Regions from separate parts of the Homo sapiens genome. Here region 1 is linked to region 2. The links come from fine-mapping of genetic effects on gene expression. Tissue or cell type: whole blood. Region 2 holds a variant in brackets; the other region holds the start of a gene. All regions are shown on one strand. Distances are between the middles of the regions.

What was found. PIP is the estimated chance that this variant, and not a neighbour inherited with it, causes the effect.
Region 1: PAIP2B starts here. The variant in region 2 is fine-mapped to the expression of PAIP2B in whole blood (TOPMed, PIP above 0.99).

Annotation. Positions count from the first base shown.
Region 1 is chr2:71,222,462-71,230,569 of GRCh38, reverse strand. It overlaps PAIP2B (poly(A) binding protein interacting protein 2B), which reads left to right and starts at 3,467. Exons shown (of 4, transcript NM_020459.1): 1 at 3,467-3,642. RefSeq lists enhancers at 3,182-3,321, 3,537-4,037.
Region 2 is chr2:71,266,198-71,274,305 of GRCh38, reverse strand. All of the region lies in intron 2 of LOC105374797 (a long non-coding RNA gene), which reads left to right. Among named protein-coding and RNA genes, the nearest start is that of PAIP2B, 43 kb to the right of the region's middle. The variant C/T (reference allele first, on the strand shown) is at 4,012.

The DNA.
Region 1 (8,108 bases), 44 kb after region 2:
GTTGGCAAGGATGTGTAGAAATTGGAAACTTCGTACATTGTTGGCGGGAATGCAAAATGGTGCAGCCACTGTGGAAAACAGTACGGTGGTTCCTCAAAAAATTAAACATAGAGTTACTATATGGCCTAACAATTCTACTTCAGAATATATACCCAAAATAATTGAAAGCAGGCCCTTGAACAGATATTTGCATACCAACATTATTCACAATAGGCAAAAGATAGAAACAACCCAAATGTCCATCAATGGATGAATTGATAAACAAAATAGGACATATACCTATAATGATGCTACTCAGCCTTAAAAAGAAAAGAAATTCTGATACTTAAACGTGGGAGACATAAAGCCAAACACAGAAGGACAAATATTACATAATTTCACTTACACGTGATACCTAGAGCAGTCAAATTCACAGATACAGAAAACAGAATGGTGATTTCCAGGGGCTGGGGTAAGGGGAGAATGGGGAGTTAGTGTTTAATGGGTACAGAATTTTTGTTAGGAATGATGAAAATGTTCTGCAGGTGGATTGTGGTGATGATTGCACAAAAATGTGAATGTACTTACTGTAACTGAACTGTACACTTAAAATAGTTAAGATGGTAAATTTTATATATATTTTACCACAATTAAATTTTAAAAAATGAAATGATGTAATCTTCAAGGTTGAAGATTTATTGCCCTAATAGCAATAGGATGTGGGGAAGGGTGATGGGCTTCTCTTGCCTCCCTCCCTCTCATTGACATCATCTCCTACAACTTTATGACTGGTTTTTGTCTCATATCTGTCCCTGCCCACCACCACCAGATACCCACATTGCTACCTCATTCCTTCATTGTCTTTTGGCTTCCATAGTTTCTGATAAGAAATTTGCTGTAATTCTTATCTATTTTTTCCCCTCTGTATGTTTCCCAGCCCCTTCCTGCTCTTCACTTCTTCACATCTCTGTTCAATGGTCTTTCCTCAAACAGCTCTTAAACTAACCATTCTACTTAAAATGGCCATATTTTTTTTCTGCCTGCTTTTAAGACTTTTCTCTTTATCACTGGTAATAGCCAGCCATGAATTTATAATAGATGGCACCAGTGGTAGGAAGTGAGACGAGAGAAGTTCATCAACCCTTCCTTACATCCCATTGCTATCCTGGTAATAAAGGTTCATCCTCAAGGAGTATTTCTGACTGCTCAAGGACACCACGTGGACCAGAAGAGCCTGTTTTTCAAACCTATGAGATTGTGTAAACTTTCTCTCATCATACACCGGAAGGCCAATTCAGGGAAAGAAGCAGTGGAGGGTATGGGGATGCTATCCTAGAGAGAGATTTTTTTTTTTCTAAAAGACACATGTTTCTTGCAGGCGTCATTTAAATTATGTAATCAAATAAAGCTTTAAACCAGAGTTGGCAGCCCTAAATGGATGTACACCTAATACACAACTTCAAAATACATGGAGCAATGTGAATAGTGATCCTGGAGTTGTGCACTGTAGTGGCTCTGCTTATTAGCCCCTTCCCACTCTTCACTTCTTCACATTATTCACATCTCTGTTCAGTGCTGTTTCCTCAAACAGCTCTTAAACTAACCATCCTACTTAAAATAGCCATTTCCCCAACCATCCCATGACTCTGCTTTATTTTCCTTTGTAGCATTTATTCACAACATACCATTTTATTATTTATTGGTTACTTTTCTGTTGTCAGTCTCCTTCACTACAGTATAAACACCATGGGTGCATCTTCACTGTCTTATTCATATCATATACCCAGTTCCATGATCAGAGCCTAGAACATTCATAGTAGATGCTAAATAATACTTGTTGAATGAATTTATTTATTTACTTATATCATTTAATATGAAGTATGTATTAGTCCATTCTCACATTGCTATAAAGAACTACCTGAGACTGAGTAATTTATAAAGAAAAGAGGTTTAATTGACTCACCGTTCCTCAGGCTGTACAGGAGGCATGGCTGGTGAGGCCTCAGGAAACTTACAATCAGGGCAAAGGGGAAGCAAGCACGTTTTCACATGGTAGCAAGAGGGAGAGAGAGCTAAGGGGGAAGGACACACACTTTTTTTACCATCAGACCTTGTGAGAACTCACTCACTATCACGAGAACAGCAAGGGGGAAATCTGCCCCCATGATCCAATCGCCTCCCACCAAGTCCCTCCCCCAACATTGGGAATTATAATTCAAAATGAGATTTGGGTGGGGACACAGAGCCAAACCATATCAAAGTATACAGCTAATATTTATAATTGTTATTTGAGTTTATCTTTTTCATTTTTATATTTTTTCCATTCATTCTGCAATTCCCTAACTTTGTGTCATGTATACAGTCAGCTTGAGAGGTGGGGGGGAGAGAAAAATGTATAAAGTAAGAGCTCCACAAAGAAATCCCTACTTCCTGTGGAATACAATTCGAAGTCCTTTGCAAGCAGATTGGACATTCTAAATCCAAGGGAGGCAATAAAGTTTTATTTTAATTTGTATTTATTGATGTATTTTTTTTTGAGTCGCAACCTCACTCTATTGCCCAGATTGGAGTGCAGTGGTGCGATCTTGGCTCACTGCAACCTCTGCCTCCCGGGTTCAAGTGATTCTCCTGCCTCAGCCTCCCGAGTAGCTGGGACTACAGGAGCCCGCCACCACGCCCAGCTAATTTTTGCATTTTTAGTAGAGACGGGGTTTCACCATACTGGCGAGGCTGGTCTAGAACTCCTGACCTTGTGATCCGCCCGTCTCGGCCTCCCAGAGTGGTGGGATTACAGGCGTGAGCCACCGCGCCCGGCCAAGTTTTATTTTTTTAAAGCACTCAAGAAGTTAGGTTTGTTTCTAGAAACGTGGAAGCATCCGTCTGCTTCCTTCCAGCGTCCCTTTGCTTCCTTCCAGCCTCCCAAGGAGCCCAATTCCTTAATTTTCCCTACAGAGAATAGCACCAGGTCCAAAGCAGCCTGAATCAAAGCTCCTCCTTTGGTAATTGACAGCTGAGGGAAATCCTACTGAGGCCCACCCCCACCCTCCTCCTTGCTAGGCTGACAGGCAAAACTCGGTGGCAGTGGCTTCCAGCTCAGCCAATAGACGAAGCGGGAGCAAGAGCCTGTGTAAACAAACCCAGAGTGCGGCGCCTTGGTCTCCTCCCCCACGAGTGGGCCGGGCGCATCCTTGGCCCAATGCCTATCCCAGGCTAGCGTAGCGTCCTTTCAGCCAATCAGAGCCGGCATCTCCCTCAAGGAGGTGTTCCACCACAGGAAAAAAAAAATGAAGGAAGAGAAAAGACAGACATTAAAACCAATCAGAAGCTGAAACTTCTGAGGGAGTGGGCGGGCACTGCTTCACATTTAGACCAATAAAAACCACATATGCCATTCTAGGTGACCGAACGGCATCTTCTTTGGCCCAATAGACGAATGGGGCGGTGCCCGGCAACCAATGGCTTGGGTTCGGGGGCGGGGCGAGGAGGCAGTGTGCAGTAAGAGATAACCTGGCAAGTGGTAGTGGCGCTTCTCGGGTGCTGTGCTTCACGTTTTGGTACTAAAGGCCGAGACTGTTGTGGCGACGGCGACCTCTACGGCAACGGCTTAAGCTCTCGGAGGAGTGGCAGAGTACGATCTGAAGGAGGGGCTTCTGGTTAGCCCAGGTGGGCTCGGGTGCCCGGGCTGCTGGGGAAAGGACTCGAGGGAAACGCCGTTCTCCCGGCTCTGGGGGCGCCCTGCGCCTCCCTTTCTGCCGCCGTCGGGGCTGTGAAGGGCGGCACGCGCCTGCCCGAGCTCCTGTAGGGAGGGAAAGCGCGCGGGGTCCCACGTCGCGGCCATCGGCGAAAAGGGGCGTCCGCTGGGGTCAGCCCCTGCCCCTCGGGAGCAATAGGGGGTTTTCGTCCCTTTCCCCCCCGCACAGGTGCTCTGTTTCCCCCCGACTCCCACCCAAGTTCCTGACTCCCCTCAGCGTCCTCCTAACACTCGAACCGAATTCTTGGCCTGAGTCCCATTTCTACCCAGGTGCAACAATGCTAGGCAAATTGACCCGCGCGGCATCCCCCGCCCCTCTCCCCGGGCTGGAGCGGGAGGGATTGCGCGTCGTGCCCTTCCCCTATTCGCGGCCCCTGCGCGTCCTCTGCCTTTTTATACTTGCTCCATCTCCCCCTTGACTCCAGCCCTCATTCTTCATGCCTCATTTGCCTGGGAGACGTTCGCCACTTCTCTTGTGCCTTGCGGTCCGTGAGTGAGCCCATCACCCCCTACCAACCCCTAAATTCCATTCTCATCTCTCCAGAAAACTAACATTTTCCACTTGCCTCTTCCAGGCAGCTGGAAGGTGAACTGAGAGAGGCAGAATACGCAGAACAGGGAGTTTGGCAAGGTTGGGAACTTTAATGTTTTGTTCCTGGTAGACTGTTTTTGCCTTCAAATGGCATTTGACCATTATACCCGCTCTAGAATCTTTGTCCTAATGCAGTTCTTTTGGTGGTAATTGCTGAAAATGCAGTTGAAAAGGGCTAACTAGAAGCAAGGGATTTAAATTTTGTTACTATTATTTTCAGTAAATTGAATTGGATTATACTTTAAACAGCTTAACTGGGGTTTCTGGGAGTTTGTAGTGTAAGGGCCTGGCTACCCTACTTTGTCATAAAATATAGAACATACTTAGTTGTACAGCACAGTGTGATTCGATCACACCCAACCTATGAAGGGATAATAACAGCATTGAATCTGTCCAAAAACAACATTCCCTGTTCCCTTTTCACCTTCATAGTATATTCGTTTGGTTTCTAGTAATGTCGGTTCTAGCCATATGTTTTTTGATAACAGTACAAACTATGCTGTGCCTAAGTAAAATTATGCCAACAATTTTATGGGGAAAAGCTAATGCACTGCTCTTAGCTTTGATTAAGATTTTAGACGTTTGAAAATATAAATTCAGATATTGGACAGTGAGGGTTTTATTTTGAAGGTTGGAGGAGATTGAAGTGTTGGGGTAAGACTGATAGGCTCCTCTGGCTACTTGTATATCGGGGTGGGGAGAATATACAGGTTTACAAAATCTTGTAAATTCTCACAGTGCTTAGTTTCCTGACTTTTCAAAAATTGGAATTGTTTTTCCTAGCTTTCAGTGGAGAAATGTAAGCTATGAGTTTAACATCATGTTCACTGTGTTTTGGCCAGGATTTTGCAAGCTTTTGTGGAAAAAATTATATTGCTTTCTTTATCCTGTTTGTAATGTATGTATCAGTATGCTTCCTTGTATTTTACTGTGGTAAAATTGTATCTTGTATATAAAGAAAAAAGTCTATTATAGTGAATTAAAAGAAATCTTTACTCTGAGGTGGCAGCCTTGTCTAATGGACCATATGTTTAAGCCTTGTTAATAAATCACACTAGAGCCTAGCACAGTGGTGTGTGCCTGTAATCCCAGCCACTTAGGAGGCTGAGGCAGGAGGATTGCTTGAACCTAGGAGTTTAAGACAAGCCTGGGCAACATAGTGAGACCCCATCTCAGTCAATCAACCAATCAATCAATTACACTAAAAAGAGTAAGATCTTAAAACTGTTCCAACAAATGTCTGGGTGTCTAAAACAAGGAAAAGAGTTTATGACAGAGTTACAGCAGTCATCAGAGAAAAATCCTGGACAAATTGCAAATCTGTAACAGTTGTGAATTGCTGTGACTGCAGCTGAAAACCAAAGTTATTTTTGTGCAGTCTTTTTTGGGAGTATTTGTGTTTAATAATAACTTGTTTGCAAATTTAGAGGACTCTAGCTATGATTTCTTCTTAGAGACCTTGAGGAGCTCACAGTTTAATGGAAGAGAGAACTAGAAACCAATAATTAAATGCAGAGAGTGAGGTTCTGCAGTAGAAGGTATATACAGGGTGCAGAGAAGCACGATGGCACTGTGTTCTGATCTCATCTCCTACTGCTCTAGACTTCCTGAAGTGCCATTTCCTGAACCTACCTGTTTTTTTCCACCATCTGGACCTCTCTCTGTATGCACCATTCTCTCTCCTTGCAAGCCTTTTCCACACCTTATGTGCTTGGTGAAATTCTGTTTCTTCAAAATCTTGAAGCCTGCCTCTGCCTCATCCAAATGTTTTGCCTACTTCTCTGTTATTTCTTTATAAATAATTATAGTCAATTCTCATTATTTGCAGTAGTTATATTCTATAAAGTTGCCAAGAACACTGAATTATCAAATATTCAACCCTTGTTCCCAGGGAAAATATATACATATATACATATCTCACACAGATTACAAAATTAATTCCTAAAAACAACTCATCCTGGTAGATTGAATTTTCCTTACTTACAAAAAATAAAGGAAGTACAGAAGTGTTAAGCGATTTGCCTGAGGCCTCTCTACTAACAGGTGCCAGAGTTAAGATTCAGACTCGTCCAGATGGCCCCAGAGCCAGAGCTTCTTGCACTACGCTGCACTGCCCTCTGCTGTCTCTGTCCTCTGGTCATCTTTGTATGAGGGCTGAGACAAGGCTGAGGGTCACCTTGGGACTTGGGCAAGGAGTGACATATTTTTCACTACTATGTGTATATCCATAAGTCACCTTGAAAGCTCCACAAGTATTTGGGGATTACAAAGACATTTTAGCAAGTAAGCAAATTTGCAAATATGGGATCCACAAATAATGAAGATGAACTGTATTTGTAAGTGACTGCTAGGGTCTGTTTCATGGTAACCCCTTTCCCCAACAATGTGGACTATTTCTTTAGCTTATTTGATAGTTTGTACATTTATTCATAAATTTATTCAGTTATCATATATTCATTCATTCAGTTTGTTCATTTATCATATATTAAGCACTTACCATAAGTCAGACTCGGCTGAGCGTGGTGGTTCATGCCTGTAATCCCAGCACTTTGGGAGGCTGAGGCAGGTGGATCACGAGGTCAGGAGTTCAATACCAACCTGTCCAGGATGGTGGAACCCTGTCTCTACTAAAAATACAAAAAAATTAGCCAGGCATGGTGGCAGGAGCCTGTAGTCCCAGCTATTCAGGAGGCTGAGGCAGAGAATTTATTGAACCCAAGAGGTGGAGGTTGCAGTGAGCCGAATCGTGCCACTGCACTCCAGCCTGGGTGACAGAGTGAGACTCCATTTCAAAAAAAAAAAAAAAGTCTGTGTTTTTGTTTGTTTGTTTGTTTTTGAGATGGAGTTTCGCTCTTGTCACCCAGGCTGGAGTGCAATGGCACGATTTCAGCTCACTGCAACCTCTGCATCCTGGGTCAAGCAATCCTCCTGCCTCAGACTCCAAGTAGCTGGGATTATAGGCTCACACCACCACACCCAACGAATTTTTGTATTTTTAGTAGAAACAGGGTTTCACCATGTTGGCCAGGCTGGTCTCGATATTCTGACCTCAGGGAATCCACCCATCTTGGCCTCCCCGAGTGCTGGGATTACAGGCGTGAGCCTCTGCATCCAGCCTCAAACTCTGCTTTAATCTGTGGTGAACAAGCTGGAGATTAAGGTCCTGCCCTGTGGATTTTATATTTGCCTAAGAAAGACAGATAAGAGCTAAGTCAGGAGCTCTGGGGAAAGGCCCAGGTTGGAATTATAGATTCACTTGACCAAGGTAAACCTGGTGTGCCTGCTCCTACTTCACATCCCCAGACATACTTCCAGAACATTTCCTTTTGTATTTTTGTGTACAAACTTCCTTTTGAGCCTCTCTCCATTGTCACATGTCAACCTCTACTTGTCTTTTGTTGATTTTGAGGCCACTTGCCCATGTAAGTGGCAGGATATTATAGAAGAATCATGCTGACCTGGGTCTTTGAATTCTGGTTCTGCTACCTACCAACTGAGTTCCTTTGGTCAAGCTCTTGGACTTCTGAGCCTGTTTCCTAATTCCAAAAGTGGTATATGATGTGTTAGTCCCTGGTGGGTTGCAAGAAAGAGGCACACACATATCAGCTTTGGTGATGAGGGCTGAATGTAAACTTGGATGGAAAGTCATCTAAGCAGCCATATTGTCTCTTGGCCCTAGTACTTTCAAAACTTCACAGAACATTAATTTAGCAGTATTTAGTATTTGAGCTCTGAAGACCTGCCCTCTTTTGCTTTGTTCACTCAACATTTGTATTTTCCAAGAGA
Region 2 (8,108 bases):
AAGGGAATGCTTCCAGCTTTTGCCCATTCGGTAGGGTATTGGCCATGGGTTTGTCATATATGGCTCTTATTATTTTGAGGTGTTTCTTCAATACCTAGTTTATTGAGAGTTTTTAACATGAAGGAATGTTGAATTTTATCAAAGGTCTTTCTGCGTGTAGTTTTCGTCTTTAGTTCTGTTTATGTGTTGAATCACATTTATTGTTTTTTGTATGTTGGACCAACCTTGCATCCCAGGGATGAAGCCTACTTGATCGTTGTGGATAAGCTATTTGAAGTGCTGCTGAATTCAGTTTGCTAGTTTTTTTTGTTTTGTTTTGTTTTGTTTTGTTTTGTTTTGTTTTGGAGAAAGAGTCTTGCTCTGTCACCGAGGCTGGAGTGCAGTGATGCAATCTCAGCTCACTGCAGCCTCCACCTCCCAGGTTCAAGCGATTCTCCTGCTTCATCCTCCTGAGTAGCTGGGATGACAGACGTGCACCACCATGTATGACTAATTTTTTGCATTTTTAGTGGAGATGGGGTTTTGCCATGTTGGCCAGGCTGGTCTGGAACTCCTGACCTCAAGTGACCTGCCTGTCTTGGCATCCCAAAGTGCTGGGATTACAGGCATGAGCCACCATGCCCAGCCCAGTTTGCCAGTATTTTATTGAGGATTTTTGCATCGATGTTCATCAATGTTTCCTTTTTTGTTGTGTCTCTGCCAGGTTTTGGTATCAGGATGATGCTGGCCTCATAGAATGAGTTAGGGAGGAGTCCCTCCTTTTCAATTTTTTGGAATTGTTTCAGTAGAAATGGTACCAGCTCTTCTTTGTTCCTCTGGGAGAATTCAGCTGTGAATCCATCTGGTCCTGGGCTTTTTTGGGTTCGTAGGCTATTTATTACTGCCTTAATTTCACAACTTGTTATTGGTCTATTCAGGGATTCAATTTCTTCCTGGTTCAGTCATGGGAGGGTGTATGTGTCCAGGAATTTATCCATTTCATCTAGACCTCCTAGTTTATGTGCATAGAGGTGTTTATAGTATTCTCTGATGGTTGTTTGTATTTCTGTGGGGTCAGTGATATCCCCCTTATCTTTTCTGATTGTGTTTATTTGATTCTTCTCTCTTTTCTTCTTTATTAATCTAGCTAGTGGTGTTATTAATTTTTTCAAAAACCAGCTCCTGGATTTATTGATTTTTTTTTTAGAAGGTTTTTTATGTCTCTATCTCCTTCAGTTCAGCTCTGATCTTGGTTATTTCTTGTCTTCTGCTAGCTTTGGGGTTTCTTTGCTCTTGGTTCTCTAGTTCTTTTAGTTGAGATGTTAGGTTGTTAACTTGAGATCTTTCTAGCTTTTTGATGTGGGCATTTAGCACTAAACATTTCCCTCTTAACACTCTTTTAGCTGCATCCCAGAGATTCTGGTACATCATCTCTTTGTTCTCATTAGTTTCAAAAAATTTATTGATTTCTGCCTAATTTTATTATTTACCCAAGAGTCATTCAGGAGCAGGTGTTCAATTTCCATGTAGTTGTGTGGTTTGAAGTGAATTTCTTAATTTTGAGTGCTAATTTGATTGCGTTATGGTGTGAGAGACTGTTATGACTTCAGTTCTCTTGCATTTGCTGAGAAGTGTTTTACTTCCAATTGTGTGATCAATTTTAGAGTAACTGCCATGTGGCACTGAGAAGAATGTATATTCTATTGTTTTTGGGTGGAGAGTTTTGTAGATATCTATCAGGTCCTTTAGATCCAGAGCTGAGTTCAGGTCCTGAATACCTTTGTTAATTTTCTCTCTCAATGATCTGTCTAATATTGTCAGTGGGGTGTTAAAGTCTCCCATTACTATCGCATGGAGTTTAAGTCTCTTTGTACGTCTCTAAGAACTTGCTTTATGAATCTGAGTGCTCCTGTATTGGGTGCATATATATTTAGGATAGTCAGCTCTTCTAGTTGCATTGAACCCTTTACCATTATGTAATGCTCTTCTTTGTCTTTTTTGACATTTACTGGTTTAAAGTCTGTTTAGTCAGAAACTAGGATTGCGACCCTTGCCTTTTTCTGTTTTCTATTTGCTTGGTAAATTTTCCTCCATCCCTTTATTTTGAGCCTATGTATGTCTTTGCACATGAGATGGATCTCTTGAAGAAAGCATACCAATGGATCTTGCTCTTTATACAGCTTGCCATTCTGTGTCTTTTAATTGGGGCCATTTAGCCCATTTACATTTAAGATTAGTATTGTTACATGTGAATTTGATCCTGTCATCACGATGCTAGCTGGTTATTTTGCAGCCTTGTTTATCTGGTTGCTTTATAGTGTCACTGGTCTGTGTATTTCAGTGTGTTTTTGTAGTGGCTCGTAATGGTTTTTGCTTTCCATATTTAGGGCTTCCTTTAGGAGCTCTTGGAAGGTAGGCCTGGTGGTGACAAATTCCCTCAGCATTTGCTTGTCTAAAAAGGATCTTATTTCTCCTTCACTTATGAGGCTTACTTTGGTTGGATATGAAATTCTGGGTTGGAAATTCTTTTCTTTAAGAATATTGAATATTGGCCCCCAATCTCTTCTGGCTTGTAGGGTTTCTGCTGAGAGGTCAGCTGTTAGTCTGTTAGTCTGGTCACCTTTGTAAGTGATCTGGCTTTCTTTTTTTTTTTGAGATGGAGTCTGGCTCTGTTGCCCAGGCTAGAATACAGTGGTGCAATCTCGGCTCACTGCAAGCTCCATCTCCTGGGTTCACACCATTCTCCTGCCTCAGCCTCCCAAGTAGCTGGGACTACAGGTGCCCGCCACCACACCCAGCTAATTTTTTGTATTTTTAGTAGAGACAGGGTTTCACCATGTTAGCCAGGATGGTCTCGATCTCCTGACCTCGTGATCCACCCGCCTTGGCCTCCCAAAGTGCTGGGATTACAGGCTTGAGCCACCGCGCCCAGCCATGATCTGGCCTTTCTCCTGGCTGCTCTTAACATTTTTTCTTTAATTTCAACCTTGGAGAATCTGATGATTATGTATCTTGGGGTTGATGGTCTCATGGAGTATTTTACTGGGGCTCTCTGCATTTACTGAATTTGAATGTTGGCCTGTCTTGCCAGGTTGGAGAAGTTCTCCTGGTTGATATCCTGAAGTTGGTTTTCTAACTTGGTTCCATTCTCCCCATCTCTTTCAGGTACCCCAATCATTTATACGTTTGGTCTCTTTACATAATCCTATATTTCTCAGAGGTTTTGTTCATTCCTTTTCATGCTATTCTGCTATTGATACTTGTGGTTGCATTGTGAAGTTCTTATGTTGTGTTTTTCAGCTTCATAAGATCAGTTATGATCCTCTCTAAACTGGCTATTCTGGCTATCAGCTTCTGTATTGTTTTATCACGATCTTAGTTTCTTTGCATTGGTTACAACATGCTCCTTTAGCTCAGCAAAGTTCATTATTACCCTCCTTCTGAAGCCTACTTTTGTCAATTCAGTTATCTCAGCCTCAGCCCAGTTCTGTGCCCTTGCTGGAGGGTGTTGTAGTCATTTGGAGGAGAGGCATTCTGGCTTTTTGAGTTTTCAGTGTTTTTGCATTGATTCTTTCTCATCTTTGTGGGCTTATCTGCCTTCGATCTTTGAGGTTGCTGGCCTTTGAATGGGGTTTTTGTGGAGTCTTTTTTGTTGATGTTGTTGTTGTTTTCTGTTTGTTTGTTTGTTTTACTTTTAATAACCAGGCCACTCTACCAAAGGGCTGCTGTGGTTTACTGGGGGTCTGCTCGAGACCCTAGTTGCCTCAGTTTTTCCCATACCTGGAAGTATCACCAGTGAAGGATACAAAACAGCAAAGATGGCAACCAGCTCCTTCCTCTGGAAGCTCCATCCCAGGGGAGTACTGACCTGTTGCCTGCCCCAACATACCTGTAAGAGGTGGCTGGAGACCCCTGTTGAGAGGTCTCACCCAGTCAAGAGGAACGGGATCAGGGACCCGCTTAAAGAAGCAGTCTGGGCCGGGCACGGTGGCTCACGCCTGTAATCCCAGCACTTCGGGAGGCTGAGGTGGG[C/T]GGATCACGAGGTCAGGAGATCGAGACCATCCTGGCCAATATGGTGAAACCCTGTCTCTACTAAAAATACAAAAATTAGCCCGGCATGGTGGTGCATGCCTGTAATCCCAGCTACTCAGGAGGCTGAGGCAGGAGAATCGCTTGAACCCAGAAGGTGGAGGTTGCAGTGAGCTGAAATTGCGCCACTGCACTCCAGCCTGGTGACAGAGCTAGACTCCATTTAAAAAAAAAAAAAAAAAAGAAGCAGTCTGGCTGCTTTTTGGTAGAGTAAGTGTACTGCATTGGGGGGACCCTTCCTCATCCAGATCATTTGTAGTCTTTTGGCCAGCAGGCTGGAACGGCTGAGTCAACCAAACCACAGAGATGGCAGCTGCCCCTCCCCATGGGAGCTCCATCCCAAAGAGGGATGAGAGTTCTATTTTAGAACCCTGGCTGGAGTGTCTGAAGCCCCTGGAGGGAGATCCCGCCCAATGAGGAGGAATGGATCAGAGTCCTGATTAAAGAAGCAGTCAGACCACAATCTAGCAAGGCCGCTGTGCTGCGTTGTGGAGGACCCTTCCTCGTTCGGACTATTTGTATTCTTCAAAGCCATTAGGCTGGAACAGCTGAGTCTGCTACTGAACTGCAGAGATGGCGGCCGCCCCTCCCTCTCTGGAACCCAGACCCATCTCAGGCAGATTCCAGCCTGTTGCCATTGGCTGGCTGGAATTCCAAGCCAGTGGGTCTTAACTTGTGGGGTACGATGGAAGTGGGACCCACAGAATGATGCTGATTGGCTTCCTGCATTCAGCCCCCTTCCCAAGGAGATGTAGGGAGGGATTTCCCACCTTGCCAGGGATCCCGGGGCTGGAGTATGTAAAACTCCCTAGTCTCTGTGTGTGCCTCAGCTGCTGCTCTGCCAAGATTCCACACAGCTCTCTGCTTTGGACCCAAGGCCCAGGTGGCATGGGCTCAGGAGGGGAACTCCTGATCCATGGGGTTGCAAAGATCTGTGAGAGAAGCGTGGTTTCCCAGGCAGGGTCGCACAATCACTCACTACTTCCCTTGGCTGGGGATGGGGGTTCCCTTGGCTCCCTGTAGCTCCCAGATGGGGTGTCGTCCCCTGCCCCCTGCTTTTCTTCATTCTCCGTGGGTAGAGTTATTTGCCTAGTTAGTCCCAATGCAAGAACCTGGATATTTAAGTTGAAGGTGCTGAATTCACTCGCGCCTTTACATTCCCTTCAGTGAGTGCTGTGGACTGCAGCTCCTTCTAATCGGCCATCTTGCAACAGCTTTCAAATCTTTCAGTCTTATATCCACATGTCATTTTCTTTTCCTTTTTTTTTTGTACAGAAGACTAGATAATATGCATGACATGGTTAAAATTTTCAATTGTGTCAAAAATATATGCAGTGAAAAGACAGTTTTCATCCTCCACTGCCTCCTGCCCCCAGCTTTCTTTCCTCTTAGACTACCACTGTTGACCAGTTTCTTGCATATCCTTTCAAAGACATTCCATGGGTTAAGAAAAATTATAAATGTATATATGTATGTATTGACTATATTGTAAGGTACGGACTTAAAACATTCCATATATGTTACCAAATTAATATCCATATATAGTTCATGTCAGTTGTGGCTCCCATAACAATTTGTCAGGACCACTGTTTCAACACGTCTCTATACAGTACATTATCAAATTTAATTTTTAATTTTCTATTCAGTTGTTGGTCTTTTTAAAAATTGTAGTGCATAGATATGTATACATGCATATATATATATATAAAATAATGAAAGTAGTCCAATATGAATAAATTACTTATCTTTTACCCCCTTTGTCTTTTGGCTTGTTTACTGTATTTTTGCAGTGAATTATTATTATTATTATTATTATTGCAACAGGGTCTCACTCTGTCACCCAGGCTGGAGTGTAGTGGCAGCCACAGCTCACTGCAGCCTCAACCTCAGGGGCTCAGGTGATCATCCCTCCTCAGCCTTCCAGGTAGCTGGGACTACAGGCATGTGCCACCATGCCAGGCTAATCTTTTGTAGAGACAAGGTTTTGCAGTGTTGCCCAGGTTGGTCTCAAACTCCTGGACTCAAGCAATTGGCCCACCTTGGCCTACCAAAGTGCTGGAATTACAGGCATGAGCCACCATGCCTGGCTGAATTATTTTTGATTTTCATATAGTCACATTACTTTTTCTAACTTTCTAGGGTTTTTTGTTGTTGCTTTTACTCTTTCCTAGAAAGGCTATCATATCCCCAAGATTTAAAAAAATTCTCCTATGGTAGCATCTAGTCTGCTTGATATCTATATGGTTATAGTATATAATATACTGTATGTATATGTGTATATATATGTGTATATATGTGTATATATATACACACACACCAATATACTATATAATGCAAATAATCTATTATAGAAATAATATCTGTTATGACAAAGAAATAAATTAGGGCCGGGCATGGTGGCAGCAGTTTGGGAGGCTAAGGTGGATGGATCACTTGAAGCCAGGAGTTCAAGACAGTGAAACAAAAACCACATGATTATCTCAATAAATGCAGAAAAGGCCTTTGACAAAATTCAACAACCTTCATGCTAAAAACTCTCAATAAACTAGGTATTGATGGGACGTATCTCAAAATAATGAGAGCTATCTATGACAAACCCACAGCCAATATCATACTGAATTGACAAAAACTGGAAGCATTCCCTTTGAAAACTGGCACAAGACAGGGATGCCCTCTCTCACCACTCCTATTCGACGTAGTGTTGGAAGTTCTGGCCAGGGCAATCAGGCAGGAGAAGGAAATAAAGGGCATTCAATTAGGAAAAGAGGAAGTCAAATTGTCCCTGTTTGCAGATGACATGATTGTATATCTAGAAAACCCTGTTGTCTCAGCCCAAAATCTCCTTAAGCTGATAAGCAACTTCAGCAAAGTCTCAGGATACAAAATCAATGTGCAAAAATCACAAGCATTCTTATACACCAATAACAGACAAACAGCCAATTCACGAGTGAAATCCCATTCACAATTGCTTCAAAGAGAATAAAATACCTAGGAATCCAACTTACAAGGGATGCAAAGGACCTCTTCAAGGAGAACTACAAACCACTGCTCAATGAAATAAAAAAGGATACAAACAAATGGAAGAACACTCCATGCTCATGGGTAGGAAGAATCAATATCATGAAAATGGCCATACTGCCCAAGGTAATTTATAGATTCAATGCCATCCTCATCAAGCTACCAATGACTTTCTTCACAGAATTGGAAAAAAGTACTTTAAAGTTCATATGGAACCAAAAAAGAGCCTGCATTGCCAAGTCAATCCTAAGCCAAAAGAACAAAGCTGGAGGCATCACGCTACCTGACTTCAAACTATACTACAAGGCTACAGTAACCAAAGCAGCATGGTACTGGTACCAAAACAGAGATACAGACCAATGGAACAGAACAGAGCCCTCAGAAATAATGCCACGTATCTACAACTATCTGATCTTTGACAAACCTGACAAAAACAAGTGATGGGGAAAGGATTCCCTATTTAATAAATGGTGCTGGGAAAACTGGCTAGCCATATGTAGAAAGCTGAAACTGGATCCCTTCCTTACACCTTATACAAAAATTAATTCAAGATGGATTAAAGACTTACATGTTAGACCTAAAACCATAAAAACCCTAGAAGAAAACCTAGGCAATACCATTCAGGACATAGGCATGGGCAAGGACTTCATGTCTAAAATACCAAAAGCAATGGCAACAAAAGCCAAAATTGACAAATGGGATCTAATTAAACTAAAGAGCTTCTGCACAGCAAAAGAAACTACCATCAGAGTGAACAGGCAACCTACAGAATGGGAGAAAATTTTTGCAACCTACTCATCTGACAAAGGGCTAATATCCAGAGTCTACAATGAACTCAAACAAATTTACAAGAAAAAAACAACCCCATCAAAAAGTGGGCAAAGGATATGAACAGACACTTCTCAAAAGAAGACATTTATGCAGCCAAAAAGCATGAAAAAATGCTCATCATCACTGGCCATCAGAGAAATGCAAATCAAAACCACAATGAGATACCACCTCACACCAGTTAGAATGGCGAT